Linked DNA regions of Homo sapiens: all the other regions are linked to region 2. A link means that fine-mapping ties the variant in region 2 to the plasma level of a protein whose gene starts in the linked region. Region 2 holds a variant in brackets. A gene starts in each other region. All regions are shown on their reverse strands. Distances are between the middles of the regions.

Region 1 (4,058 bases), not on the chromosome of region 2:
CCACTTTTCCCTTGACAGGGGTGATTCTAACATGCCATGTCCCTGTGACATGGGCAGTGACAGTGTTTGAAGTGTGGTGGAAAGGGGACTAGGCTAACAGCCAAGGGAGCTGGGTTCCTATCTTAGTTCTGCCACTCTGAGAGCTTGGCCAAGTCACAGTACCCTTTTCTGGCCTGTTTCCTCATCAGCAAAATGCATGGCTAAGGCTAGAAAATCTTCAAGGACCTTGCCTGATATAATGATGATCCTAAGTGAAGGAAAAAAGAAGTGAAAGAGTTCATTTAACTCTCTTTTCATCTAAAAATAATTAAGGATACATGACATTCTATCAATACATACTGCCAAATTAAATTTTTGTTTGTTTGTTTTTTGAGACGGAGTCTCACTCTGTTGCCCAGGCTGGAGTGCAGTGGCGCCATCTCGGCTCACCGCACCCTCCGCTGTCTGGGTCCAAGCGATTCTCCTGCCTCAGCCTCCCAAGTAGCTGGGATTACAGGCGCCCGCCACCACGCTCCACTAATTTTTGTATTTTTAGTAAAGACAGCGTTTTGCTATGTTTGCCAAGCTGGTCTTGAACTCCTGACCTCAGGTGATTCTGCCCGCCTGGGCCTCCCAAAGTGCTGAGATTACAGGCGTGAGCCACCGCGCCTAGTCAGCCAAATTAAATTTTTAAAGAGCCACAGATGTACTATCTGACTCGAAAGACAATATGACCTGTTAGTGCCAGGTAACTCAGGATTATCGACTACCTTTTTCAAGGCCCTTTCCATTCCACAGCTGTCATGTCTGCCAAAGGATAGAGTTTCCAGGTCCCTTGAAAATACCTGGGAAACTGAGCCATCTGGATATTCCTTAATCATGTATTCTCCACAAGCTACAAAGACCTACCACATAAAGTCCTTTACTTGCAATGGTGTTTCCAATAATAGAATAAGTTATATTATCCATATTTTACTCAGCTCCAACCATGGTCACTTGTTGGCTTGCATGTGAAGCAAGAATCCAAGTGATAGAAAAGAGTTAACACGTCCAGTGGGGTTGAAATAATATACGAGTGGGAACATTAGCTCCCAAACTAAGCTGGGTCAGTGGTGGAGGGGCAATGGATTAACTGTAGAGGCAGGTCACGACACCGTCTTTCCTCCTGCCTAGAACGTCTTCTCCGACAGCTGCAGCATGCAAAAGGCAAGGCGCTTCAGGGATCAAACCTACTCGTAAAGGGGGACACTGAGGCCCAAAAAGAAAGTAACTTGCTCAGGGTGACGCAACAAGGCTCCACCTCCGCCTCGAAGCCAACGGCGATGACATCCAGGCGAGGGATTACGGAACCACCACAGCCTGGGCCCGCGGGAGGGGACGGGACGCCACGACCCGTGGGGCGGCAGCCGCCGCCTCAAGACCCTCGCCGCCGCCAGGGGTGTCACTTCTTCCCGAGGAGCCTCCCACCCTGCCACACAGCACTGCAGCGCTGCCCTCCGCAAGACAAAACTGCCCCGCAACCCTCCCGGGCCGCGGGAGGGGCTCCAGGGCCTTCAGAACACCACTCCCACTATCACCCCAGAGGGTGAACTGCGGTGAGAACCGAAACTTGCCACACCTCTACCCCCGTGGCCCCTTCTCAGGACTGCAAGTCTGAATGTGGGCACCCCGAGGGCCTAACTGCCCCTTTCCACTTGAGGCACTCACCAGGGACAGCAACCAGCAGCGGCGCGACAGCAACAGGGCAGAGTGGGACGGGGGCGGGGCTAAGCACCCAAGGGAGAGCCCGTCCCGCCTGCCCCGCCCACACGTCACAACGGTCAGCAAGCCCCGCCCCCGCGCGGCGCTTGCTGGGACTTGTAGTGTTCAGGTGACCGGGCCCCAGGAGCGGTCTTCTGCCTTTGATGGCTCTCCTAAGTCCTGAGCAGCAATCTCACCGAAATAAACCTACTTCATCCCCTGGAAGAAGCTGTTTACTTTTCTTTTTTTTCTTTTATACCTTTATTTCTTTTTTCTTTTTCTGTCGTCCAGGCTAGAGTGCCATGGTGCGAACACGGCTTACTGCAGCCCCGACCTCCCGGGCTCAGGTGATCCTCCCACTTCAGCCTCCTGAGTAGCTGGGACAACCACGGTGCCCATACGGCGCCCGCCACCACGCCAGGCTAATTTTTGTATTTTTAGTAGAGATGGGGTTTTGCCATGTTGCCTAGGCTGGTCTTGAACTCCTGGGCTCAAGAGGTCCAGCTGCCTCGGCCTCCCAAAGTGTTGGGATTACAGACCTGAGTCATCGCGCCTGGGCTACATCTTTATGTCTTTCTTCCCTGAATGAGAAAGCTTTATACATTTGAAGGGCCATTAAGAGGTCATCTTCATTTTTCTCCTGGGTCCACTTAACACTACTTCACGAAGAGTCTTTATTTTTTTTGAGACAAGGTCTCACTCTGTTGCCCAGGCTGGTGTGCAGCGGGGCGATCTCGGCTCAGTGCAACCTCTGCCTCCTGAGTTCAAGCTATTCTCGTGCCTCAGCCTCCCCAGTAGCTGGGATTACAGGCACCCGCCACCATGCCCGGCTCATTTTTTTGTATTTTTAGTAGAGACGGGGTTTCACCATGTTGGCCAGGCTGGCCTTGAACTCCGTCTCAAAAAGAAAAAAGAGAATAAACTCATGGCCAGGCACAGTAGCTCACGCCTGTAATCCCAACATTTTGGGTGGCCGAGGTGGGAGATCTCTTGAGCCCAGAAATTTCAGATCATCCTGGACAAGATAGGGAGACCCTGTCTCCACAAAAAATAAAAAAATTAGCCGGGTGTGGCGGTGGGCCCCTGTAGTCCCAGCTACTCAGGAGGCTGAGGTGGTAGGATCACTTGAGCCTGGGAGGTGGAGGCTGCCATAAGCCATGATCACACCACTGCACTCCAGTCTGGGAGACAGAGCGAGACCCTGTCTCAAAAAAAAAAAAAAAAAAAAAAAAAAAGAATAAACTCAGTAAGAAAAGAATTCTGCTAAGTCAATTTAAAGAAAATCCCCCATCCTTAATATCTAATAACCCTGGCCTGCCTTCAACAAGAGTCCTGTTAAGTTGGTTTAACAAGAATCTCCTTTTAGTAATTTTCCATGCAGTGACCCCTCACTCTGCTTGTTGGCTATAAATCCCACTTGTCATTATTGTATTCAGAGTGCAGCATAATCTCCCCTTTGGTCCTGAATAAATTCTTCCTTGCCATTTTAACAAGTTTCAGAATATTTTTTTCTTTAACATCCAGAAGATGTTAAATGCTGTATATGCTGTCTATGAAAGATTAAATTTGGAAGTGCCCCTTCTTCCACTGTTTAAATGTGGAAAGAAATTTTTCTGTGCCATCTCAGGCAGGGGAATGAGCATTCCTTTTTTTTTTTTTTTTTTTGTCGAGACAGAGTCTTGCCCTGTCGCCTAGGCTGGAGTGCAGTGGCATGATCTGGGCTCACTGCAACCTCCACCTCCCGGGTTCAAATGATTCTCCTGCCTCAGCCTCCTGAGTAGCTGGGACTACAGGCGCCCGCCACCACGCCCGGCTAATTTTTGTATTTTCAGTAAAGACGGGGTTTCACCATATTGGCCAGGCTGGTCTTGAATTCCTGACCTTGTGATCCACCAGCCTCAGCCTTCCAAAGTGCTGGGATTACAGGCATGAGCCACCACACCCAGCGGGAATGAGCATTCCTAATCTGCTTCCTCACAAGACTGGTGGCATTCAACTGAGATGAACGGATGGTGGGAAATGATGAGTAAGCCAGGAAGTGGGTCATCCGTCTAAAGTTCAAATCACCTTCTGAGTTACCAAAATAATATCTTCCATTTTAAACTCGGTCTGCAGGGACAAGTGCCCTCAGTATCCTGGATACATTTCCCTTAATTTTACTTATTAGATTTTCTAAAAGCACTGAGAATGAAAACCATCTGCACCCACACAGCTTATTGTCTACATTAACATGATAACTATTTCAGTAAATTAAAAATGAAGGCTGGCCGGGCATGGCGGCTCACGCCTGTAATCCCAGCACTTTGGGAGGCCGAGGCGGGCGGATCATGAGGTCAGGA
Region 2 (4,062 bases):
GCAGCAGCTCAACTTCTATCAGTTTGATCCAGGTCTTTTTTCCTTTGAATTCAGTTCTATCAGCATCTATAGAGTGCTTGCTGTATGCAATACTAGTCATTTCAAGAGGAGGAATTTAGCTTCCTTTCCCATTATCTCCACCAGCCCCCTCACTCCAGAAGCACCTCAAATAAGCTTACCAGCTAAGCATGTACACTGTAGTCGCTGTGCAAACATAGCTTTGAGATGGCCACCCTGCCACCTCCCACATGACTCCCTGAAGTCCTTTTCTTCTTTGTCCTCTCCTGTCACATAAAATTCAGAATTTTCAGGAGAATTTCAGAATTTTCAGTAGAGTTTCAGAATTTTCAAGATAGAAGGGAACTGAGGGTCACCCAGTTCTGTTTGGTAACAAATGTGTTCCACTTCTTCCCCTAGCCAGAGTCCCAGGACAGAGGGTTAGCTCATTATGTCTTTGGCTCCTCTTTTATCCCTAACCTCTCGGGTATAAAATGTAAGTGATTAATGTTCCACAAGACTTGGACTGAAAAACTTTAATCCAGTACATTCTGTTTGATCAAAACAGGGTCCAGGAAAGTTAAATGACTTGTCCATAGCTGCCACAGTCTGTGGGTAAACAGGGACCAAAACCCAAGGCCACTTGATCCCCCATGCGTGGCCTTCCTATAAAGCCACTTGCCCATGGTGTGGACATGATTGCCCTGTGGGTACGGGGCATGCTGGGGCCAATGACACGCTATCTTTGGGGAAGGGTGTAGCTTTGTGGTTAAGACCATCAACGTTCTGGCAGACTAAGTAAGTTCTGGCATGGCTATTTAGTAGCTGTGTGATCTTGAGCAAGTTACTTATCTTCTCTGAGCCTCCATGCCCTCATTTATACAACAGGGCAGTACCCTCTTCAGCAGGTTGTGAGGATTCAGTAAGGTAATATATGTCACATGCTTGTCACAGGTCTGGCATAAGGCAAATGGCACCTAACATTATTTTCTAGCTTTTCAGCACTCAGGTGTGAACTTCCCAAGTCATAATGGTTCTTTCTGTTCCAGCTGAAGTTAACTCAAACCTGTCTTTATTACTCCATTTGTTGAAAGAGAATCTGATATGGAACTTTTTGCTTGGATGATGTGCCACACATGTAGTCTACTGTTAGAAATTGTTTAAAAATCTGAGTTTCAGAGCTGTCTTTCCAACTGGTTGGTTGGTTCCTGGGTTTTGAAGAGATTCGTTCCTCCTCCAGACTTATCTCCTCGCTCTGTTTGGGACCATAATAAACCTAGCTACTGTTTATGAAATTATTACTATGTGGTAGCCCCTTAACCAGGTTTCTCTCTAATCTTCACCTCCACCCTTTGAAGTAGGTGCTATTTGGTCCTGATTGCAGATGAGGAAACTGAAGTTCTGAGAGACTGAGTAACTTGCTTGATGGTTGATATTTTGGTGGTTCTCCCTCGTGGAAGGTGGAAGAGCACACTGTGCTCTGTAGTTTTCTGGATGTGAGATTATGTCTAGGGTGACTCTAGCACTTGGGGTTGACACCTGACAAGGACTTGAGTGAGCATCCAACCCCCTGATTGATCAGCAGGGGAAGCTGGTGAGCAAAAACGTCACAGGACTGGACCCAAGTCAGCACTGCTTCTCATTCAGTGTTCTTTCAGTCATATCATATAGGCTCAAATCCTTGACCCTTGCATCATAGGCTCTGGCCTCAGGACTCCCTGGTTTGTGACTGGCCTGTGAATTAACGTTCCGCTTCAGAATTGGAACTTGAGGTTCTAGAAGCAAGGTGCTTGCATTTGAACTCCAGCTCTGCTGCTTACTAGCTGTGTGACTTTGGGCAAGTTGCTTGAACTCTCTGTGCCTCAGTTTCTCCTACTATAGAAGTACTCATTTCATAGGATTGTTGTAAGGATTACTTGAGATACTTCATTAAAGTCAAAGCACAGTGCCTGGCAGAGAGCAAACACCTCTTCGGCTCTCAGCATCATTTACTGAGCTCTCATCACTTGCCAGGCATCTTTTGGCAATGGGGATGTAGCCTTGTACAAGCGATTCATGATTCTTTTGGAGCGTACAATCTAGTAGGGGAAACAGATGCTAGAGAATAATGAAGATTATGATTTATTAAGTAATTCTAGTGCTATTTGTTATTTATGGGGCACTATTTAGAAGTTGCTGCAAGGTATCTTTGTTTTTAGTTCTAATTCTTATAAATGGACAACATTAATGTAAGTAAGTATTTTGGGTAAGAAGTTTGGCCAGGGTTGCACAGAACCCTCAGCTTTGAGAAGCCTGTGGTTTAGCATCTCATGCCAGCAACCATCTAGATGTGTATTTTTGTTTTGTTTTTTAGAGACAGAGTCTTGCTCTGTCACTCAGGCTGGAGTGTAGTGGTACAATCATAGCTCACTGTAACCTCCAACTCCTGGGCTCAAGCCATCCTCTTGCCTCAGCTTCTAAAGTAGTTAGGACTATAGGAATGCACCATCATGCCCTCCTAAATTTTTACATTTTGTGTACAGACAGGATCTCACTATGTTGGTCAGCCTGGTCTTGAGTTTCTGGCCTCAAGTGATCCTCTTGCCTCAGCTTCCCAAAGTACTGGGATTATAGACATCAGCCACCAAGCCCAGTCAGTCATCTGTGTTATATCCAGAACAGAATTAGGTATGGCCCTACCACTTAGATGCAAGCAGCCCACCCTTGAAGGGCAGAAGGGAAGCTGTGACTGGGCAGAATCCACAAGGCAGCAAGACTTGGTCCACTGAAGGAACAGATAGCTCTCATAGTCATAACAGGCCTGTAGGAAGAAGACAGTGTAGGAACCAAATGCTGTTGTAAAGAT[A/G]ACACAGGCACTATGTAACCGAGTACCTATTTTTAAGTGACAGTGGTATATTTTAGGCCAGTTCTATCCCATTTGTAGTCTGTCTCCATTTTCCCTCAGTAATTCTTTTCTCATAGTTGATCTTTCCTCTGTTTCAACCTCTTGTTTGCTTTGCCATTTGATATTAAAAGAATCTATATGCATATGCATTTCTTGACAAATGAGTACATTGAGCTTAATTTTCTGATGAGCCTTCATAAAATATTACCATGCTGAACCAACCCAAAATGTGGGCTGCCTATACCAAACATGCTAATTTTAGACAGGGTGCTTTCATCAGTACATAAGATATGAATTTTTATTTGAAAGCTTTCCTGAAATTAAATAGCATAAAATCAAGATAATACTCCATATACACTTCAGTCTTTGCTGTTTAATAGAATCACAGAAGCATACACATTTATGTTTAAATCACCTTGTTATATGGTTCAAGAATCTATGTCTCAGAGAGATCACTTGACTTGCCCAAGACCACAGACTTAATGGTAGGGCCAGATTGTATACCATGTCTTCTTTTTTTTTTTTTTTTAATTTTTTTAGAGGTGGGGTCTCGCTCTGTTGCCCAAGCTGGAATGCAGTGGCACGATCATAGCTCACTGCAGCCTCAAACTCTTAGGCTCAAGCAATCACCCTGCCTCAGCCTCCTGAGTAGCTGTCACCATAGGCATATGCCACTGTGCCTGGCTAATTGTTATAATAATAATTGTTATTATTATTGTAGAGATGAGGTCTTACTTTGTGGCCCAGGCTAGTCTCAGACTCCTGGGCTCTAGTGATCCTCCCACCTTGGCCTCCCAAAGTGTTGGGATTATAGGTGTAAGCCACTGCACCTGGCCCATGTCTTCTAATTTAGGTCAGTTCACTCTTCACTCTGCTGCTTCTTTTATATATGTGCAACAGTCATATCCTTTTTTGAAATTATAAGATTAAATCAAAGAATTAATGTCTTTGGAAGCAAGGAGTGTTGGAAAAGTTCTCCAAATTCCACCTTTTTTCCTTAATTCATTTAAAAAAAAAGGGAGAAGGATGATTTATTTACCGGAAGGGTTAATAATAGCATGACGTGCTAACTGTATGCTTAGAAATCTGACATACATATTATCTTATTGGATTATTCATGTGTTTTTAACTCATTAAAACCTTGAAACTCTCATATCCCCATTTTATAGATGCTTAAACTG
Region 3 (4,053 bases), not on the chromosome of region 2:
AAATAACTGCCACATTGGAATGCATTCCGCTGGGGGTTCCTGTATTTTATATATGAAAGCTTCCTGGCCGCATGTGTGTTTTGGTTGGCTTTAGTGGCAGGACTGAAGGGTTTTGCTTTGCTTTTGTTATGTGAATGGGGAAAGGGGCTTTGCCACTCATGGCCTCATTAACAACAATGGTGCCAAGATGCGGACTTTTAAGTGACTTTTACTTTATAGATTCTGAAAACCCACAACTTGCTAGTTGTGAGTGACAAGCATCTTTCTGAGAACTTTCTGAAAATTCCCCACTTCCAAGTTTACACAGCCTTTAGTAGACTTAAAAAAGAAGAGAAAAATACCAAACAGTTCCTTTGTTGAGAAAGCAGCCTACATATAGATCTGATTGTTCATGGTATGTTTGAGTCCACGAAGTAGAAATGAACAAAAATTATTGCTTAGTTTTCCTGATGTCAAATCAGTTTTGTTTTAAAAATGTCATTAGTAATTTATTAGGTAAAATGTTAGCTAAGCTAACTCTAGTTAATTTACAAAGTTTTGGCTTCATTTTGTTATGATGAGACTTTATAAACCTGATCTTTAAAATAAGGTTCTTAAAATTTTTAAAAATTTATTTTATTTATTTTTTGAGACAGAGTTTCGCTCTTCTTGCCCAGGCTGAGTGGCAGTGGCATGATCTCAGCTCATTGCAACCTTCACCTCCCAGGTTCAAGCGATTCTTCTGCTTCAGCCTCCCGAGTAGCTGGGACTACAGGTGCTCGCCACCGTGCCCAGCTAATTTTTGTATTTTTTTAGTAGAGATGGGGTTTCACCATGTTGGCCAAGTTGGTCTCGAACTCCTGCTCAGGTGATCCAACCGCCTCGGCTTCCCAAAGTGCTGGGATTATAGGCGTGAGCCACGGCGCCTGGCCAGGTGTTTTTTTTTTTTTTTTTGAAACGAATCTTCTTCTATTTCACAAGTGGAAATCATCCAGGAAATGTGCACCTCAAGGGAAATCCAGTGAAATCTTGATTCTGGGTAGAACATATGAGAAAAGAATAGTGTAGCACTCACTGCTTGGCTATTTGGGATAGGATCTGTCTTAGGTCCCCATAAGCGCTTTTATTTCTGTGTAATTTACTGCAAAACTCTATGAGGTAGGACTAATATTATCTTATGTCAAGGGTTAAGACAATTGAGACTTGGGGGTTTGTCAAAAATAAAAGATTTTCTGACTTTGGAGTGCGATGTGCATTTCTGTTGCACAGATCTCCACCAAGGGCAAATTCGATGGCAATGACAATTTGATGTCAGAACTTCTCAGGAAAGGCTCTGATGAACTCATTCACACTGCATGTGAATGACTGAGAAAACTCGATGTATTTTCACTTTTTTTTTTTTAAGAAGTAAACCTGGGTGTTTTGTAGTTCTATGAGAAAATGAAAGCTGAAGCTAGGCTATAGATGAAAAGTTCTATTCATTATTACAATTTAATAATGCTTCCAAAATAGCAATTCACTTAAATATACCTAGTTAGGGTGTTAAGAAATACTTTGATTAAAACCACACTGCAAAATAGGGAACTTCAATGGACTGCTTTAAACTCTCGACCTCAAAGGAAGGAAATCAACTAACCGATAATGAAAACTAGCAGAAAAAAAAAAGCTTAGGATCCGTAACAGATTCGGAGTCAACAATGACATGACTCAGCATTTTGGGGTTCAATTAAAACCAGGCTTGTAGGTTGCAGGTCAAGTTGTGTTTCGGTGTGTAACGCATAAAACTTCTTGTTCCACGCTCCGCGGTGTTGGGGATTTTCTACTGCATCTCGACAGCATCTCGGGTAACAACCGAGCCCCTCCTCGCAGCGTAAGTCGTAGGAGCCCTCGGCCATTCTTCCCCCTCCCTCCCGCCGCCGGTCCCAGCATCGGTCCGGGTTCGCTTCTACGCAGGTTCAGCGGCCGCGGACACAAAAGCGCCCCTGCTCGCCTTCGATGCCGCTGCTTGGTCCAGGGGCTTCTGTGGGATTTTAACACGCTAAGGAGGGCACTCATAGTGTTTTACCGAGAAACGCTTTCGAGCTCGGATCTTTGGTGATCACTTCAAGAATGTATTAGTTTTCTTTGTAGCTTAAAAAAAAATCTCGTTCGCCAAGCCACCTGGCACCCCAAACACTGCTGCGAGCGCTGGGAGGGAAAGGGCGGGAGCGCGCGGGCTCCGTGTGCTGCGAGGGCGCCTGGGCGGCTGAGATAAGGCGGTGGCAAACGTCGCGCTCCGGGCCGCCCCGCCAGACTCGGTTTCCCCCGCTCACCGGCCTCCCCGCCCCCAGGCAGGGTGGGGCGGGGCGGACGCGCCACGGCGCGCGACCAATCGACAGCGCCGGGGATGATTCAAAAGGTCGAGGAGCCAATGGGAGCCCCGGGCGGCCTCGCCGGTGGGGAGGGGAGGCGAGGGGAGGGGAGAAGCGCCGCGAGGCGGGGCCGGGGAGGCGCGCGCCCGGCTTGCGGGACTGCGGGGCGCGAGAGCGCGGCCGGGTAGCGTCGCGCGCGTGGATCTGCCGCCGGGTTGCTGTGCGACTATTCTCCGGGAGCCGTCCGTGTCACCGCCGGAACCTGGCGCAGGTGAGTGCTTCCACCCCCGCCCTGCTCCCAGCTCCCCGCGGCGCGTTCTTCGAGGGGCCGCTGGGGGAGGAAGCCCGAGGCCGGCGCAGCGGCCGGGCCGGGGACCCTGGGCGCGGGGCCTGGCGCGGCGGCCTTCCCCTCCTCTCCTCGCCTCCTCGTCTCCTCCCCTCCTCGCCTTTTCTGGCCCAGTCGGGTGGTCGGGGCGGCGGCGGGCGAGGCTGGAGCTCGCCCGAGCCGGGCCCGCTGCGGAAATGGAGCTGGGGGTTTTAAACTGCGGACGTTTCCCTCCATGTTGGCGGCGCGGCGCGGCTGTGGAGCGGCGGCGGCAGGGAGGGTTCGTGGGCGCCTTTGTCCTGCCCCACCGCAGCCTGGCTCCCGGCCCCTCCGAGCGCCCGTCTGACAGATGAGCAGGCGGCCCCGCGGTCCTGCAGTAGGAGGCTGACAGGGCGCGGCGGCCTGGCGGGACGGGGAAGGGTCTGCGGCCGAGGTGGGCTTAGATTCGCGCTGCTTGTCACTGGCTTTGAGGGTCGTGGTCGTCGCGGTTTGGTGATTCTCCAGGCACACTGCATGGCTGCTCGCTCCTATGCGTTGAATTCCTTCGCCCGGACAGTCTCAAAAATCGGGTATTTAGGCGGGTGTGCGTGTTCCTGCTAAAGCACGGTCCTGCTTTTTCACCTTTTTGAGGGTTCAGAAAAATGTTCTAATGACAGCCAGCCTCGCACTGCCAGTAGCCTCAAGGGGCACTTAGTAAAGCACTTGCTTTCGGAGGGCTTTGTTGAAGGCGCTTTCCCAGAGTGATTACGGGGCCCGGTCGGGTGTTCACACGAGGGCGCGGTAGATACCGTGGTCCGCGCGTGGACACCTGCAGCGCGAGGCGCGGCGCCTGGGCAGTGCCAGGGTGAACAGGCCCCCGGGGACCTTGCACGTAAACACGTGTAGATCTGTAGTTACGCATTGTAGTAACTGGTGTGTGGGAGAAGATGGAGCTACGGAGAAGAGCAGAGGGATCCTAATTTAGATTAGGCAACAAGTCCAGTTTAAGTTTTGTTTCTCAGGCTGCCTGGGAAGAGGGAGAAGAACGAGCAGGAGGGGAATGATGAGCTGCCCAAGGATGTTTATGGGGAAGAAGGCGCTTCTGCCTTTACAGCCAGGAAGGTGGCCTTTCTGTTGCTTCATGAAGCAAAGGGCGCGGAGCAAGGCCCGGGGTTCCTGTTTGCATTTTGCCTAGTGGGGCTACCGGGGCTCAGGTGTGAAAAGGAAGCTGTCCAACGTCATTCGAGCGTCTTGCTCTATGCCACGTTTAGATGAATTTGGAGAAGTGAAGGAAAGATGGCTGGAGACCCCTGTAATGTTAATGAGCAGAGAATTGTTGTGTTCACAAACAGTAACATACCGGAGCTGGAATGTGTGAGGATTGCAGTGCCAGTTGACTCTGAAGTTAGCGGGCATCTG
Region 4 (4,056 bases), 31 Mb after region 2:
TTAGGTCTCAGAGTAAACAGCACGCTTGGAGGATTACAATCGACCCGAGGCCAATTCGACCCTTTCCCTTTGCCGCCCTCAATTGACCCTTGAAGCAGCCCCTGCTCTCCCTTCAAATGGAAAACCCACAGACACACACACAAACAAAAACCCCAAGTCTTCCTTTCGGTTGCTACCCGCAATGACGTTTCCCCCCTCGGGTCCCGCCCCTCCAGGGGGCTTGGAATTTTGGGATTGGCCGAGAGGCTGTGGCGACAAGGCCCGGATTGGACAGCATGGCGCTGACTGACAGCGGGGGCGGCCGCCGCGCCCTCCCTCTCTCCCCGGTGTGCAAATGTGTGTGTGCGGTGTTATGCCGGACAAGAGGGAGGTGACCGTGGCGGCGGCGGCGGCGGCTCTGTTTATTGTCCCTCTCGGTGTGTGTGTGTGAGGAAATCGGGGCTGCAGCGAGGCTAAGGCTGCCTTTGAAGCAGCGGCGGCGACCGGGACGACTACTCTGGCGACTCGAGTGGCTGGCCTTCGCGGAGTGTGAGAAGGACAAGGCACCTCTGCGTCCTCGCCACGTCCGAGCGCCTCGGGCTCCCCGGCCGCCCTCGCGGCTCGCACGCCCGGGCTTCAGCCCGGCCTGCAGCGGCGCCCGCGGGCGGGCGAGAAGGCAACGCCGCCGCTCGGCCGCCGCCGGTCGCTCCCTGCTTTCTCCTCAGCCGCCGCGCTAGGCCCGGGCGACGCGGACGCCGCGCCTCGAGTTTGAGGGCAGCCGGCGGCGCGGCCTCCTCAGCGGGCTCGGCTGGACGTCCGCTCCGGATCTTCGCGATGGGGCGCGGGGGTCGGCGCGGCTAGGAGTGCGGCGAGTGGAGCGGTGGGTGCGGAGCGGCGGGGCCCAGCGGCCCGCAGGGAGGCGGGAGCGGCGGCTGCGGCCTCAGGGCCTGTGAGCTGGAGGCACTCGCCATGGCCAAGTCGGGTGGCTGCGGCGCGGGAGCCGGCGTGGGCGGCGGCAACGGGGCACTGACCTGGGTGGTAAGTGGCTGGTCCCCGGGACGGGCGGCTGCATTGTTCCGGGCCCGCGGCGGGGGCGGAATTCCGAACGGGCGGGGGAGGGGAAAGGGAGGGAAATCCCGTCCCCCGAACGGGCGCTCCATAGGGGCCTGTGCTTGCAGAATCCTCCAGCCCGCTCCCCGCGCCTTTTCTTTCTTTCTTTCTCTGTACGTCTCTGGAAGTCCTGACTGCCAGAGCGTAATGTGTACTTGAAACTTTGGGGGGACAAAACCGCGAACGTAACATACAGCCCCCGCTTCCTCTCTTTTCTTTTTAACCAGACTCTTCCGGGGCAGCCGAACCTGAAATGGTGGGGATGGCGATAATGCAAGTGTGTCTGTGTGGGGCAGCATTTTCTCCAAATGTAGTTCAAGAAAACCCTGGGAAAAGGGGTGTGTGTGTGTGTGTATTCTAAATGCAGCTCTTTCTGGGGCTTTAATCTCAAAGAAGAATGCATTGGGATTTCTACAGCAACTTGCACTTCAATTTGGAAAGCCTCATTCAATGCGCTCAATTGAGAGCGCATTGGGGATGACTTTCACAGCAGTTAATACTGTAGGTCGTCCCTCTGTCAGGGTGAGATTATTAAAAGAAGTGCTTGTCTACGTCAGCATCGCAGGTGTAACGGGGTGAGGGCTGAATGGATGTCCTGGAGAGGTGACTGAAGTGCTTAGTCCTGAAGTTAAAGGATTTCGACGCTCAGTTCTTGCTGGGAAGTAGAAGTAACTGCAGCGGAAGGAGGAAGGGAGACTGGATTCCCACGACAGATCGATAATTCGCCGGCATTTCACTTGCTCAGCGTAGAGTTCAGACCAGGGTCATTTCCTATACAGAAAACCTAGGTATTTCGGAGAAAAGTAAAAAGTGTTACATTTTTCTGGACTTTTGACGGTCTGTTCCCCCGTCCCTGTTTTAAATACCTCAAGGGAGCTTTCATATAGGCATTTTTGTTACTTAGTTCGTTTTCTCTTTGTTTGGGTGAGGTTTGGGTGAGTTGAATAGCAATTTGTGCTATATTGACAACTGCTTCTTATAAAAAGGGTGCTACTGACAGCAGCAAAACATTTTAATCACTTATGTTTGCGTGCCAGGGTACATTGCAAAATAACTTGCCATGCTCTTATTGTTGAAATTCTTTGAATGTTGTATATTACTCCGATTATGTAGAATGAAAGTATGAAGGGACTAGGGCCAGGAGAGAAAATGTCAGATACTAAGTTAGTGGTCCATGTGGACTTGCAGTAGAGGGTATGTGAGAGGAAGAAGGAGGAGATGGACACATACATGCAAAATAATGACTTTCAGAATTAATGGCTTTTACCCCTGTCACTAAAATCAGACATCGGAAAATTGACTTAGACAGCCAAATGGTATTGTAAGTTCTCATTCACTATTTGGAAGTGTTGAGGCCTGATCGGTGTTTCCTCTGAAGACCTCTGGTTCTATAATGGTAAACATTTTGCTCCGTAGTGGATTGTTGGCTTTAACATTTGATAGCAGTACTTTAATTAACTGTTATATAATTTTGTAGATAATTAAATGACAATTTATTTCTTTCAAGCTCCATAGGAAACTCATTGCTAATTTAGCAAAACTTGGAGCATCTCATTCAAGATAGAAAAATCCATTTGAAACTGAAATTGACTTATTGATTAAAGGAATTTTCATTATAAAGCAGATTATGGAAAATATGGGAAATGCAGTAAAATAAAGAGAAGTGAAGATCACTTAGTGTTTTATTTATAGAGTATATCTTATGGAATTAGAAGTTTATTAAAAAGATAATCACTCCTGTAAGTCTTCTTTAAGAGTTGATGCTTACTCTAAGGTTATATGAGCATCTTTATGTCCATAATATACATCATTGATCATATAGACTGGTTTGATTTTATGGGAGGCAATATAGTGAGGTAGTTATGGGCTTTGACGTCAGGCTGATGTAGGTTCAGATACTGTCTCTCCAACACATTTAGTTGGACTTTTCCCAAGGAACCTAACCTTTCTAAGCCTGTTTTTTTATCTGTCAAATAAGGTTGCATTGAGAATGAAATGAGATAACGTGTGTAGCACAGTGCTGGGCTTAATGATGTTTGTTATTATTGGTGAACTTCAAGAAATGCACACTCAAATAATAGATTGCAGTTGCTTTTACATAAAATATCTTTTAGCTGGGGTAAAAGCAAATTAATTTTTCCTTTGCACGAGTTGGGGCTTTATTGCAGTGGTCATCTGTTTTGAGAAAGGTAACTTCGTCTGCTTTATTGAAGCTAGTGTTATGTTGCCACCTGCTTGTGGTAACAGAAAGAAATAAAAATAGAATTAGCCCCTGATTTCTTTCTTCTGGGTGAGGAGTTGTATGCCATGTGTTGCTGATATTAACTACTGTTGGGATGCATGCCAGCATGTGTTGTTAATGTCATTGCATGAAAATTTGCCTTTCAATATCTGAAACTACAAAGCCAAGTGGTTTTAGGACTGGCATTAACTTATTTTAATAATTCATTTGGTTTGTGTTTGATTTGTAGGAGTATCTCAACCAGAATTTTTTATAATTAAAAAAAGTGAAAAATATAAACATGGCAAAGCTATTTTGATTTAAAATGTATAGCAGTTACAAAGGCTTCTCTTAAGGCAGCAGGGTTTCTTGAATTAATTCTTTGTAGAGCTTTGATTAGTAGATAGTAATAGTCTGGTTCATTCTGTCAGTCTTGTATCATAAGTGATTGTAACAAAGACATTTGTGGAAATACTAGAATACAGTTATATGACTTAATCTTTTTCCCAACAATATTCTAACTTGGTAGATTAAAAAAAATTTTTAATGGAAAATGTTAAGCATCTCAAAAAGTGGTAACCAGAGTAGTATAACAAGCTTCCCTCTATTTAGCCTTAAGCTTCAATAATTATCAACCTGCCGGGTGCGGTGGCTCACGCCTGTAATCCCAGAACTTTGGGAGGCCAAGGCAGGCGGATCACCTGAGGTCAGGAGTTCATGACCAGCCTGACCAACATGGAGAAACC
Region 5 (4,065 bases), not on the chromosome of region 2:
CTCTGTGAAAGCAGGTCCTGGGCTGTCTTATTTATTTCTATGTCCCCAGTGCCCCCCAAAAATGTTCAGTTAATGTTTATGATATAATTGAGTTAATGAGATTGCCTCAGCATGAATTGTGATTCCTTTTCTTTGCTCAGAGACATCCAAGATTCTGAGAGGGGAAGTGACTGTCCCAAATCCAATTCAAGCTTTTTATCTTCTTTTTTCAGGCCCTTCCTGTAAAACCTGGCTGACACACAAACCTAGCTGGGGTGAGGCTCCAGGTGTGATGAAAGTTTGGAGTTGCCCCATGAATGGGACTGAGGCTGATGTGGGGGTGAGAAGGCGGAAGGACAGAGCATGTGAAGGGAGAAAGGCAGGCTGGGGCAAGAGAGCAGGGTGTGACTCTGGCGAGGGTGGGGGAAAGGGGGTGATTTGACCATGTGTCAGGAAGTGTTTCTCTCCACCCTCCCCTGGGGAGAGCCTTGACCCCAAGGTGGCTTTGTTTTGGGGAAGCAGGTGGCCAGGCAGCTGCTGAGGGAGGGCAAAGTCATGGCTTGGGCGGTGACCATGCACTGAGGTCCTAGGCCCGATACTCATCACCCAAAAGGATAATCTAACAGTGGCTCTTAGCCAAATAGGTGACAGGTGAGCTTCTGTCTGAAACCAGCCCAACTATATCATAAAGCCTCAGATATGGCCTAGGGGAAGGCAAGCGATCTAGAGAAGTGAGAGAAAAGAGGCCTCTAAGGAAATAGAGTGGTCAAGTGCTTAGTGATTATTATTAACAGCAACAATAATAATGGGTCACATTTATTGAGAGCTTATAGTGTGCCTGGCACTATACTAACTACTTTTATGTGTTCCCGCATTCATTTCTCAAAAAGCTCCCTACAAAGTAGTCATTATTATTATTGTTATTATTTTTTCCATTTGAGAGACGTCAAAACTGAGGCTCAGTGAAATTAAGTTTCTTGTCCAAGGTCACACAGTAAGTAGCAAAGGCAGGATTCAAACTCAGGTCTGTAGTGATTCCAGTGCACTATGGAAACCTAGGCCTAGGTTACTGGAGCAAGTTAAGAGGGCAGGGCCAGACTGACCCCTGCAAAGGTGGGGATAGGGAGGGACAGTGGGATAGACTGTGTATAAATAGCAGGCCTGTTTTTATCCCTACACACAGGCAGAATCCGGCAAGTGCTCTATCTGGCACAATTTCAGGGCTCTGAAAGCCAACCCAGCCCTGTGTCAAACAACTCTCTCCCCAGCACGTCCCTGGAAACTGAAATACCTACTGAGACACTCATTTCTTTGGGTCAGGACAGTGACTCCAGAAGACCCCTGCAAAAGCACATGGGTTGGAAGAGAAACACCTAGTGTCTGTGAAACAGCAATCTAGGTTAGCCAGCTGGGTCCTATGGGAGGGTGGCTCATTTTTTATGTTGAGGAAAAAGGTGGCAGTCAAAGGCAAGGAAAAGAATAAGGCTTGTTTCACAACCTGTGTCTCTCCAATCTCAGAAGCCTGGGAATTACAACCCATAGTTCAAAAATCCTAATGTCCCCTGAGGGAAGATGGGAGGAAGCCACTCCAGAGACTAAGAGAGTACTAACTTCCTTTGCTTTTGCTGGATTGATACTAAGTGCCTGCAACTTCAACTCTGGTTATCTCGGGTTTATGAGAACGGCTGGCATTCACGTGTCTAATTTTTAAATGATAGATGAATTAATTATTATTTGATACTTGCCGTGTTGGTAGGCCAAAAGGTGGGCTTCTGAAACTTAGAGGGTGACAGGGATGGAGACCCCTGGTATGGGGCTTAGATGAAGCAAGAGGCCAGGCCCGGAACAGAACTCAGCTCAGCAGTCAGTCACAAGGCTGCAGAGTGACAGGCGTTTGGGGAAAGGTAGGAACCGCTCTCCGCCACCTGCCGGTCAGTAGCCCTACCCACAATCAGGCCGCGGCTGCCTCGGCCTGGTCCCAAAAATTGTGAACGCCGCCCTCTCCTCCCGCCCAGTCCTCCGCCGCGCCCGCGGGGTCGGGGGCTGCGCTGCCGGCGCCGCGAGCCGGGCGAGCTTCCCAGCACGGGAGGAGGGAGGGGGCGGCGCCGGGCGGGGCGGAGCTTCCGCGCCTCCTGGAGCCTTATTCCCGGCCGCGAGCCGGGCAGCGCTCATTCGGCCGAAGGAGCTACGCGGGCCACGCTGCTGGCTGGCCTGACCTAGGCGCGCGGGGTCGGGCGGCCGCGCGGGCGGGCTGAGTGAGCAAGACAAGACACTCAAGAAGAGCGAGCTGCGCCTGGGTCCCGGCCAGGCTTGCACGCAGAGGCGGGCGGCAGACGGTGCCCGGCGGAATCTCCTGAGCTCCGCCGCCCAGCTCTGGTGCCAGCGCCCAGTGGCCGCCGCTTCGAAAGTGACTGGTGCCTCGCCGCCTCCTCTCGGTGCGGGACCATGAAGCTGCTGCCGTCGGTGGTGCTGAAGCTCTTTCTGGCTGCAGGTAAGAGGGCTGCCGACGCCCCCGGAGATCGGGGGGATGGGGGCGTTGTGCTGGGGGCATGGGGGAAGGTCGCCGCAGCGCACCCGGCACGGGCCACTTGGTGGGGCCCTTGCGCTCTGGCGGACGGGCGTCGGCATCGGTGCGTGTTGGTCAGGGGTCTGGGCGGGTGTCTGATGCGGCCTGGCCTCTCGCCCGCAGTTCTCTCGGCACTGGTGACTGGCGAGAGCCTGGAGCGGCTTCGGAGAGGGCTAGCTGCTGGAACCAGCAACCCGGACCCTCCCACTGTATCCACGGACCAGCTGCTACCCCTAGGAGGCGGCCGGGACCGGAAAGTCCGTGACTTGCAAGAGGCAGATCTGGACCTTTTGAGAGGTGGGTGTGGAGGCCCCCCATCCTTGGACCTTGGTGGGCTGTTGAAGAATAAGCAGATCCAAGATTCTTGCTGTTTGGGCAATACTGTGGGTTGAGGGTATTCATGGAGAACCTCGGGGAAAAGCTGATCGGCCTGATGGGCACTGGGGGATCCTGGAATATAGGTCCCACTCTCTCTCTCTTGTCATTGCCTCACCTGCTGGGTTGCTGCCCTTCTGGGTACTCCGGGGCAAATTGAATCAGACGTGTTGTCTGGGGTTGTTACGTTCTTCTTAGGTAAGCTGGGTGATAGGAACAAGGAATGGTTGAGATGCTTTCCCTAGAGCTACTATGTAAAAATGGGCGCCAGTTCTAATTCCCATATCAAATGACTATTATATATAAAATAGAGGTAACACATGCGGAGATGCCCAGGCACATCTCTAGAAAGTGTGCAGTGTTGGCCTCCTCCATCCACCTGTCTCCAGATTGGGGAAACAGAGGGGAATGAGGAGCTCTTGGCCGCCCTAGATGAGGCTGTGAATGGTGAGCACTGAGCCCCTAGGGGGCTGTATTAAAATGCTGGATATCTGTGAATGCTACCGGAAACCTGCAGCTTACTGAGCACCTTGCATTCCTGAGGAGACTCCAAATGGGGAGGGCTGTGTAGGATCCTCCAACCAGCCTCTTTGGCTGTGGCCAAGTACAGGTACAGGGCAGAGTCCAGAGCCTGCCAGCTCTCCTGCCTCCAAACCTGAGGAGATTATCCAGAGTAGAGCAAGGACTCAGCACTGTACCCTGGAATGACTATATTTGGTTGGACAGATGCCCACCTGTTCTAGTTCCACCTGCTCCTCAGCTGCCCTTCTCCCTCATTCCCAGGAGCTTTCCTTGGATACTCTCTCTACTTTGTATAAATCAAGCACATACTCCAAAACTGAGCCTGGGCTCCCATACTTCATCCTCTCCCAGTGGCCCTCTGGGGTTGCCCATGACCTGAACAGCCTGGATTCTCCTGGCCCTCTCCTCCTAGGCTGGGCAGGGCTGGGCTGTGACTCACCCCACCCCCACCCCCCACCCACACGGCTGCTCCTCTTACCTCTGCAGACCTGACTCACTGCTCCCTGTCCATGGCAGGAGCCTGGCTGTCACCCTGCACCTTCTCCCTCCCCTTTCTGATTGGCTTGGCCCCCCTGCCTTGCTCTCCCCGAAGCTCTGGTCACTGGGTTCCTCTGACCACCTGT
Region 6 (4,065 bases), not on the chromosome of region 2:
ATTCAAAAGGTAGATAAAGTTCAGAATCCAAGGAGAGGAAGACCAGGTGTGGTAAAGCAACCAGCCTGCCCAGCAAGTCTCCTCGCTCAGGCCGAACACCCAGGGCCAAGCAGCCTTGTGTCAGTCAGGGCTCTGCCCTCCTCTCGCCAGCCCTGTTTCCCTCAAGGAGGCAGGTAGTTGCATCTTCCTCCACTCCCCAGTTCTCTCCATTTGGGTCTGAGGCAAAGCTAACACCCATGAGGGAAATGATTCATGCAATAAATTTTAGGCCGGGCATGGTGGCTCACAGCTATAATCCCAGCACTTTGGGAGGCTGAGGCTGGAGGATCCCTTAAGCCCGGGAGTTTGAGACCTGCCTGGGCAACACAGTGAGATCCCATCTCTACAAAAGACATATTAAAAAAATAGGTGGGTGTGGTGGCTAGTGCCTGGAATCCCAGCTGCTCAGGAGGCTAAGGCAGGAGAATACCTTGAGCCCAGGAGTTCAAGCTCTTAGTGGTCTTTGGATGACTAAACTTCAACACATCTTAGCTCAAAATCTCCGATCACACCACTGCATTCCAGCCCGGGCAACAGAATGACACCCTGTCTCTAAATAAATAAATAAATAAATGTTAATTGTGTAGCTATTATGTGCCAGGCACAATGTGGAAGGAAGGGGATACATTAGTGAATAAAACAGATCCTTCCTGCATGGTACTTAGTTTCTAAATGGAGACACACCATCAACAAGCAACCATAAATACGTTCTTGCAAACTGAGAGAAGTGCTATGAGGAAAATGTACAGGATGCAGGGGTGGAGGATGAGGAGGTCGGCTACCTTAGATGCCGTGGTCACAGAATGGCTCTCTGTAGGAGATTTTGAGCTAAGATATGTTAAAAGTTTAGTCATCCAAAGATCACTAAGATTAGTCTATAGTCTGACAACTTAGTAACTATTGACTTATGGCAGGGCAGAATGGGTGAGGGGAGGGAGGAGTCGTTGGGTTAGGTTCCTCTTGAAGGGCTCTAATAAGACCCTGATAGACCGACCAGGTTACAGTCCGATGGTCATAATCCAGATGAGAGATATCAATCTTTAACTGGGGTCCCGAGCATATGGGGTAGAAATAACAAGGGTTGTTGATGGATTAGATGTGGGATTTGAAGTTTAGGTCTACCAAATCCCTGGGACCCTTGCAGTCAGCTCTTTCTTGGGGAATGGGAAGTGGGTTCCAGCAACCTGAATTCAAGTGCATGACGAAACCAGAAAAAGCAAACGCCAAAATCAAAACTCGGAGCCTCAGAATACCTGCCAATAGATGCATATGCCCCAGCTTTCCGTGGAGGGCAGTTTACCAGAGCCCAGTGCAATTCCTAATTTCCATAAAGAACCCACATACAAATAAAGTCTGTCTAGTTCACTATGGTTAAGGTAGTCAGGAAGTGTGCCACATTTTACAAAATTTTCCACCCAAAATGTTTTTTTTTAATGGTGCTTAAAGGAAAAATTCTCATTTACCTGGAAAACTTAACTCCCCAAAGGGAAGTTTCGTTCAGATAGCTAAAGCATGCCAATCCCAGTCCCCAAGGGAACTGCAACAACGTCTCACCGGGCGCACTGCCTTCAGCAGTCACTTTCGAGTTTGTTGCCAGGTGTCCGAGCGGGTTTGAACGTCCGCGTCAATCCACACAGTACAAACCGGAGGAGGGGCCGGGACCACGCTTCCCCTCCAGGACTGCCTTTTGTACGTGTGTTTTGTTTCTGTTGCTAAGGTTTAGGGAGCTGCCCGGCTACCCTCACGGATTCCCATGGAAACTACCACCTCCCAGAGGACAGGAGGAGAGGCGAATTCAGGGTCCACCCACGGGCCCCGCCCAGGGATGGGGTCACTGAGGGTCCGGGCAGCGAAGGGCGGGGCCCGGGAGCTGGGCATGGGCGAGGCAGGCGCGAGAGGAGAGGGGCGTGGCAGGTCCGGGGCGGGGCCTGAGTGCGCCTGCGCAGTCCGCGCCACTCAGGGAGCCGGAGGGGACGCGCCGGAGGAAAGATGGAAGACTACCAGGCTGCGGAGGAGGTAACCGCCGGGTCGGCGACGGAAGGGTGGAGGCCTAGAGCCCTGGCCGCGGAAGGACACGCGGTCCTGCCCGGAAAGGCCTGGCTGCCCACCTCCTTCAGCTAGGCCAGTCTCGGCAGCCCACGGCCTGAGCTTCCCGGTCGCCGGCGCTCCGCCCGGCCCCATTCTGCCCGGACATTGCCGCCGTTTCCCCGGCGCGGGGGGCGGGAAGGGGATTGAGCTTCTTCCCGCGCGGGGAGGCACCGGGCGTGACTCGGAGAGAGCGCCCCGGTGAGCGGTGCCGAGAAACCTTCCCGCAGGGCCTCGCCTCCGGCCCGCAGCCAAGCTCGCCGAGAGGATGACATCACCGCCCCTTGCTCTGCGGGGCTGACCCCAGCCCCAGCCCCAGCCTGGAGCGGGGCGCGGCGGCCGGGCTGGGAGCGCCGAGGCTTGGACGTCTCCCCGCGGAGGTGCGGGTGACGCTCCCGCCGCCAGCCCCTCCGCCCCGGGCTGGCGTCCCGGCCATCCCGCGCCTTTGTCTCGGGCCTCACCTGGTTCTGCAACGCTGGGAATGAGTAGCACATTTCATTTCCGTTTAATATGTCTGTAAGAAAGCTCATTGTTGTGGGGAAAAAATCATCTTTTATGCCTCCTTGAGGAAGTAGGATAAAGCCCACGATGTCGCCAAGCAGAAGACACCCATCGGCACCGTGTGCGTTAAATGGCTTTCCTTCAAGCTCACGGTCATTCGGGGAATAGAGCTGATGGGCGCAGCTGAGATACAACACTCATTTTCTTCTTACTGAATAATCCTTGTTGAAATTCAGATAGAGCCCTATGGATTTATTATGCAGCCTGTCAAAAATATAAACTATAGATACATTTGGTAAGGTTGGATATCTTACCATTTATGAAATTTAGTGGCTGGGCGCAGTGGCTCACGCCTGTAATCCCAGCACTTTGGGAGGCCTAGGCGGGCGGATCACCTGAGGTCAGGAGTTCGAGAGCAGCCTGACCAACATGGAGAAACCCCGTCTCTTTTAAAAATACAAAATTAGCCGGGCGTGGTGGCGCATGCCTGTAATCCCAGCTATTCGGGAGGCCGAGGCAGGAGAATCCCTTGAACCTGGGAGGCAGAGGTTGCCGTGAGCCAAGATCGCGCCATTGCACTCCAGCCTGGGCAACAAGAGCGAAACTCCGTCTCAAAAACCAAAAAAAAAGAAAAAAATTTCGTTTAAGGAGGAATGTTTTCAGGGAAAATAAAACTAAAACTTAAGGACTGATTCTAGAGTTTCAGTTTTGATCTGATTTCCTAACTAGCACACACTTCCTGTGACAGTGGCATAATCAGTGTTTGAATGCTGATGGCAACCAAGTGAATAATGACGAGAAGAGCTGGTTCAGGAGCAGTTGGCAAAGAAAAAAGCCTTTCCCCTTAAACTGTTACTAATATAATATTGGAAAATGTCTTGTATTACAGTAATATCGAGTAAAACTTCTAAAAAAGAAATCGCTTTGTAAAGGAAAGCGCTTAATACTGCAGTCCGATTCTGACTCCCACAAATAAGGTGGCTAAGTGGCTTCATTATTCGAGATCTCAATCGCATATGTGTAAAATGAAGGGGCTGGACAGAGTGATGAGTGTTCTACCTGGGATGGAGGCCCTGGGAGGTGGAGACCATGGCTGTCTTGTAGTAGGCATGTCTTAGGTATTTACTGAATGGCCCGTTCTGGTCCTCCCACCAGCCTCTTAGCAGCCTTTTCTGCATCTCTTCTAACTTCGTGTAGATGCCTGGGCCTTTGTAACTATTCTCTCAACTCACCATTCATCTTTCTTGGAGACGTTAAAACTATCCACTGGATTCAATACAACTCTGCTTTCCACTAAAAATTCTTTAAAATGTCCCTCAACCTTTTTCGTACTGTAACCATATGGGAGGTGATACAGTGCCTTTCCTTTGTGATTAAGGTCACGGTAGTCACTTGGAAGGATCCTTTAAGCTTCCAGAAATGACTTAATCTCTAAGATAT
Region 7 (4,058 bases), not on the chromosome of region 2:
AGCGGCCCTAATAACCCTAGAACTCTAAGTCCCCCGGGTGATACTACAGGGCAGCTAATGCTGAGAACCTCGGTTCAAGCCCAGGAATTGTTTTCCCAGGGACTGTAACACGATTCTCTGTGAAGTAGCCAGGAGCGCCAGTCTTCCTCCCCTTTGTCCAGGTTAGGACTACCCCCAAGAGGCAATAAAACATTTCCCCAGAGCTGCCAGGAAACCTGGAGGCGGGGTGGGGGCGGGGGGTGAGGGTGGAAGGAGAGGAGAGGAAGAGAGCAAGGGGAGGAATTTACTAAGTCAGAAGCAGCAGAAAAGTTAGAATAAGGAACAGCGCTGGTCCTCTGCCACCCTGGCCCCCACCCACTACAAATTTTATTGACTGGCATGAGAATTTCCTTAGAATGCTTCCTGGAGGTGGCTCAACCTTGGATTTGGTTCCAATAAATTGTGAAAATTCTTGTCCAATCAGAACCCCGGGCAGTGCAAGCAGCCAGATTGGCAGGCCCTGAGCCTGGACTCCTGTGAGATTCTGTTTCACGAATTTCCCAGGAGGATTTCTGCACCACTTGGATGCCAATCGCCCTGCCTCCACACCCTCCCTTGGCTCTTACCCCCCATGTTCTCTCCCTCAAAGCTCAGTGGAGTTGGGAATCATAGATAGGCTGGTAAAGAAATCACCCAGATAGTCTACGCGGGAATCATTCCAGTAAGTAATGCCGTTAAAAGATGAGCGTCTTTGACGTGGCTGGGAGACCCGTGTGCTCCTTTGGCGAGTGTCTGCTCACCCACTTCAGGGCCTGGGCACAACCACCGTCTCACATGGGAAGGAGGCCCGTGAAGCCCCACCCCGCCGCGCAGCTGCAACCATCCCGGGCGTAGCCAGTGCACCCATGATCTGTCCGCTGACAGCGCGTCCCTCCATCCTATGTCTGCGCTAAACTAAGTCAGCTTATGAATGAAAAGCAGTGCAAACCGGAGGCACTGACTCCGAAGAAAAGAGTCTTCTCTGCACCCTTCTCATTTACAGATGAGAAAACTCAGTGGGGTGGGAGGGGGGAGAAAGGGCGATGTGACTGGGTCCGGGTTTGCCACAGAACATTTGTGGCGGAGCTCCATTTAGCCGCCCGTGAATTTCCATTCTGTTGCCTGGCAACCGGTTCAGAGGAGCTCAGCGCCCAACCCCGGCCCCTACCCCGCACCCTTTCTCTGCCCGTGCAGCTTGGGCTGCATTGATCAAAGGTTCAGCCTTTGGGGACAATGGCCAAGGGCATGTGAGCCGGGGCACAGGATGGATTACCCCAGTTGAGCTTTCATCCCGCCCCAAACAGAAGCGAGCCCCGCCCGGCCGGGATCCGAGCGCCTTCCGCGGTCCTTTTGGGACTTCCCTCTGCAACCTCCCCTAGTGCCGTGGATACCTCTAAACATACTCATGCCAAGTTTTCAAAGTTCCCAGCCGCTGTCGGATTCCCTAAAAGTCTCGGTGGGAAAACTGCACTCCAAGTTAGGGGGCAAAAGGCGGCAGTTTAGAGGGGAAAATCGTACTGAAGAGCCCTCTTCCCAGGATGGCCACACTCGGGCTGGACTCTCCTGCTGCAGTTGAGTTAACCTGGCCAGAGCTGGGCAGAAGTGAAAAAAAGCGCGGAACGTGCTCAGGGAGTCCGCAAATACACGCCCGCTGGGGACAGCGCTCCCGGAGCCCCGCGGCCCGGCCGGCCAGCCGCCTCTGGGGGCCTCGGCGCGCAGCCCTGCCCGCGGCGCGGGGGAGCGCATGTGCCGCCCACCGCCGCGCAGGTGGCGGGAGCACAGCCTGCCTGTCCCCGCGTTCTCTGGCGCACCAGGCGGGACCCGCGCGCCGGGAGCTCCTCCACCCCCTCACTCCATCCCCTGGGCCCGGGACACTGAAAAGGGGGAAATGTTCTCGTCATTACGTTACCCCAAATCCTTACCCAGGTTCACAAAGCTCATGACCATGTCCGCGTCGTTGAGGAAGGCGCTGTCCTGCGCGCTGGTCAGTGGGGACGCGCCGCCGCTGCCAGATCCGGGGGCCAGAAGGCTCTTGCGGTTGAGCGGGTGCGCGGCGCCCGGGGGCGGCTGCCGACGCTGGGACGAGCTGGCTGCTTCGTGGGGCCAGGACTGCTGCCTCTCCCCCTCCGACGCCCCGTCCTCGTCGTTGTCGGCGGACAGGGCGTTGTACAGATCCAGCATGAAGAGGGGCGCGGACTTCAGTCGCCCGGGAGGGGGCTCTCCGCGAGGCAGCTGCTGCTGCTGCTGCTGCTCCTCCTGCTGCCGGAGCGCCGGGGGCTGCGGCTGTTGGAGGCCGTGCAGGGGCCGGGGCCGGTGCGGGAGCCCCAGCACCGACAAGATCTCCTTCTGCATCTCCCGCTTCTCCTGCGTCTTGAGCCGCCGGTACAGGAAGCCCGAGGAGGACTGCGGCGACGGCGGCGGCTGCTCCGTGCGGCCGGGGCTCCCGCCGTCCCCCAGCAGCTGCCCCCCGGCGGCGGCGGCCGCGGCAGCGGGCAAGGGCGGCCGCAGCGGCGGGGGCCCGCAGCAGCTGCACAGCAGCCCCCACCACCAGCACAGCCACTGCGCCCTCCGCCCCAGCCCCGGCATCCCCGCCCGGCCGGGCTGCCCCCGCGGATCCCGCGAGGCGTGGAGCGGCGGAGCGAGGCCGGAGCGCGGCCGCTGTGGCCCTTGGCGTGAGCAGTCCCCGCCACCTCTCGGCGGGCTCGCTTCCCCTTCCTGGCCCTCAGTCCTTATCTCTCATGGTCGTCCGGGGCGCCCCCAGTTGCCCAGGCTAGAGAGGTGGCGAAGGGGCGATCACCAGGAGAACCGCTTGGAGGGGAGGAAGGGGAGCCTCACAGCCTCGCGCAGGTCTCTAGAGGCGCGCGGTCCAGGCCAGGTGCGTCTGAGTCCGGGCTGCACTGCAGCCTGCGCCCTGGCTCCTGCGAGTCGCGGCGCGGTCACTCTGGGCCTCGCTGGCCGCACACGTGCGCTGCCCCGCGCTCTCCCTGGCGACTGAGTGGGACCCGGGGCAGCGGGGAGCGGGGCCGCTCACGAGCTGCGGGAGATGCCCGGCATCACCGTGGCGCACGCCCCTCCCCAGATCGCAGGGCCACCATGAAGTTTACCCCGTTGCAGGGCCCAGGCTGCGGCGACAAGGCGTCCCGAAATGCCAGTCTATTCCGCGAGGTTTAACTTCCTTCTCGCTCACGAACTCCGCGCCCCTGAGCTCTCGGGCACCGTCGCTCCCACTCAAAATCTCCGCGCGCCGCACGCCTCCTCAAGCGGAGGCGGCGAGGATCTTGCTTTCCGTTCGGCGGTCGCCCGGCTGCCCAGCAAACCCGCTCGCAGAAAGGATGGGAAGGAAGGGGGCTAGTGCACCGAGCAGCGGCCGCGGCGGCGGCGCCGGAATTCGGTCTCCCGCCTCTCCACGCCGCGCTCCCCGCAGCGGCCAACGTGGGCTTTCTGCTGCGCGCCCGGCTCAGGTACCTCACTCCAGCCCCGGGACTCCCCGCCCCGCGGTAACCGACAGGCTGGCAGCCAATGGGGACGCGAAGCTCGCGGGCTATTTAAATAGCCCCGCCCCTTCTTTCACCCTCCCTCTCCCGAGAGGCGTCGCCTCCGCCGCGCGTAGGTTTCAAGACCCGGGAATTCTTGGAGGCATGCGAAGAGCCGCGAGGTGCCAAAGGCGAAGAGGTCATCGCTAGTAAGAATGATCTGACCAATACCCCGATCTGAAGCTTTCTCTTTTACCATCATTTAAAAGGCCTAAGTTGATGCTTTAACTAAATAAAAATAATAACAGCGATTAAATCACTATACTGCCAGAACTGAGGAAGAAAAGAAAAATGATAGCTTTTCCATCCCTTCCTTAGTTTCTCTTATTGATGTAATGTAGGCGTTTAGCGGACACGTGGCTTTCCACGGCAGCTGCTGGAAGTTGGGACACACCCTCCGGGGAGGCTACTCACAAACTGACCACAGAGAGGGCCACATGTAACCCAAGCCAGCGTCCTGAGGGTTTGGGGTCGGATGTGTTGACTTCTCTGTTCATTTGTGCTTTG

Direction of the effects. Alleles are on the strand shown, and positions count from the first base shown. The strength of an association depends on the size of the effect and on how common the allele is.
For the plasma level of the protein whose gene starts at base 1,730 in region 1, allele A in region 2 goes with a lower level than allele G (moderate association).
With allele G in place of A in region 2, the plasma level of the protein whose gene starts at base 2,517 in region 3 is higher (moderate association).
In carriers of allele G in region 2, the plasma level of the protein whose gene starts at base 339 in region 4 tends to be higher than with A alone (moderate association).
For the plasma level of the protein whose gene starts at base 2,150 in region 5, G is the low allele of the variant in region 2 and A is the other (moderate association).
As copies of A replace G in region 2, the plasma level of the protein whose gene starts at base 1,994 in region 6 goes down (strong association).
In carriers of allele G in region 2, the plasma level of the protein whose gene starts at base 3,461 in region 7 tends to be lower than with A alone (strong association).

Evidence for each region. PIP is the chance, under the fine-mapping model, that this variant and not a neighbour inherited with it causes the effect. The UK Biobank Pharma Proteomics Project read protein levels with antibody pairs (Olink). The fine-mapping took linkage between variants from a reference panel, not from the people measured, so its PIPs are less certain.
Region 1: CALCOCO2 starts here. The variant in region 2 is fine-mapped to the plasma level of the CALCOCO2 protein (UK Biobank, PIP above 0.99).
Region 3: it holds the start of LBR, and the variant in region 2 is fine-mapped to the plasma level of the LBR protein (UK Biobank, PIP above 0.99).
Region 4: it holds the start of TOP2B, and the variant in region 2 is fine-mapped to the plasma level of the TOP2B protein (UK Biobank, PIP above 0.99).
Region 5: HBEGF starts here. The variant in region 2 is fine-mapped to the plasma level of the HBEGF protein (UK Biobank, PIP above 0.99).
Region 6: DYNLT1 starts here. The variant in region 2 is fine-mapped to the plasma level of the DYNLT1 protein (UK Biobank, PIP above 0.99).
Region 7: BMP6 starts here. The variant in region 2 is fine-mapped to the plasma level of the BMP6 protein (UK Biobank, PIP above 0.99).

What each region holds. Positions count from the first base shown.
Region 1 is chr17:48,828,707-48,832,764 of GRCh38, reverse strand. CALCOCO2 (calcium binding and coiled-coil domain 2) reads right to left here and starts at 1,730. Exons shown (of 13, transcript NM_005831.5): 1 at 1,687-1,730. RefSeq lists a silencer at 1,315-1,474 and an enhancer at 845-1,726.
Region 2 is chr3:56,814,502-56,818,563 of GRCh38, reverse strand. It overlaps a transcript of ARHGEF3 not described here. Among named protein-coding and RNA genes, the nearest start is that of ARHGEF3, 15 kb to the right of the region's middle. The variant A/G (reference allele first, on the strand shown) is at 2,843.
Region 3 is chr1:225,426,502-225,430,554 of GRCh38, reverse strand. LBR (lamin B receptor) reads left to right here and starts at 2,517. Exons shown (of 14, transcript NM_002296.4): 1 at 2,517-2,601. RefSeq lists a silencer at 2,101-2,930 and enhancers at 2,763-3,434, 3,435-4,053.
Region 4 is chr3:25,661,190-25,665,245 of GRCh38, reverse strand. TOP2B (DNA topoisomerase II beta) reads left to right here and starts at 339. Exons shown (of 36, transcript NM_001330700.2): 1 at 339-1,017. The coding sequence starts at 949. MIR4442 (microRNA 4442) reads left to right here and starts at 307; the gene lies at 307-373. RefSeq lists enhancers at 39-602, 1,560-1,689 and silencers at 770-1,129, 1,084-1,272.
Region 5 is chr5:140,344,688-140,348,752 of GRCh38, reverse strand. HBEGF (heparin binding EGF like growth factor) reads left to right here and starts at 2,150. Exons shown (of 6, transcript NM_001945.3): 1 at 2,150-2,470; 2 at 2,669-2,842. The coding sequence starts at 2,425. RefSeq lists silencers at 1,866-1,915, 1,956-2,235.
Region 6 is chr6:158,642,672-158,646,736 of GRCh38, reverse strand. DYNLT1 (dynein light chain Tctex-type 1) reads left to right here and starts at 1,994. Exons shown (of 5, transcript NM_006519.4): 1 at 1,994-2,055. The coding sequence starts at 2,029. It also overlaps a transcript of SYTL3 not described here. RefSeq lists silencers at 1,837-2,066, 2,227-2,556 and an enhancer at 1,680-2,623.
Region 7 is chr6:7,725,502-7,729,559 of GRCh38, reverse strand. It overlaps BMP6 (bone morphogenetic protein 6), which reads right to left and starts at 3,461. Exons shown (of 7, transcript NM_001718.6): 1 at 1,941-3,461. The coding sequence starts at 2,604.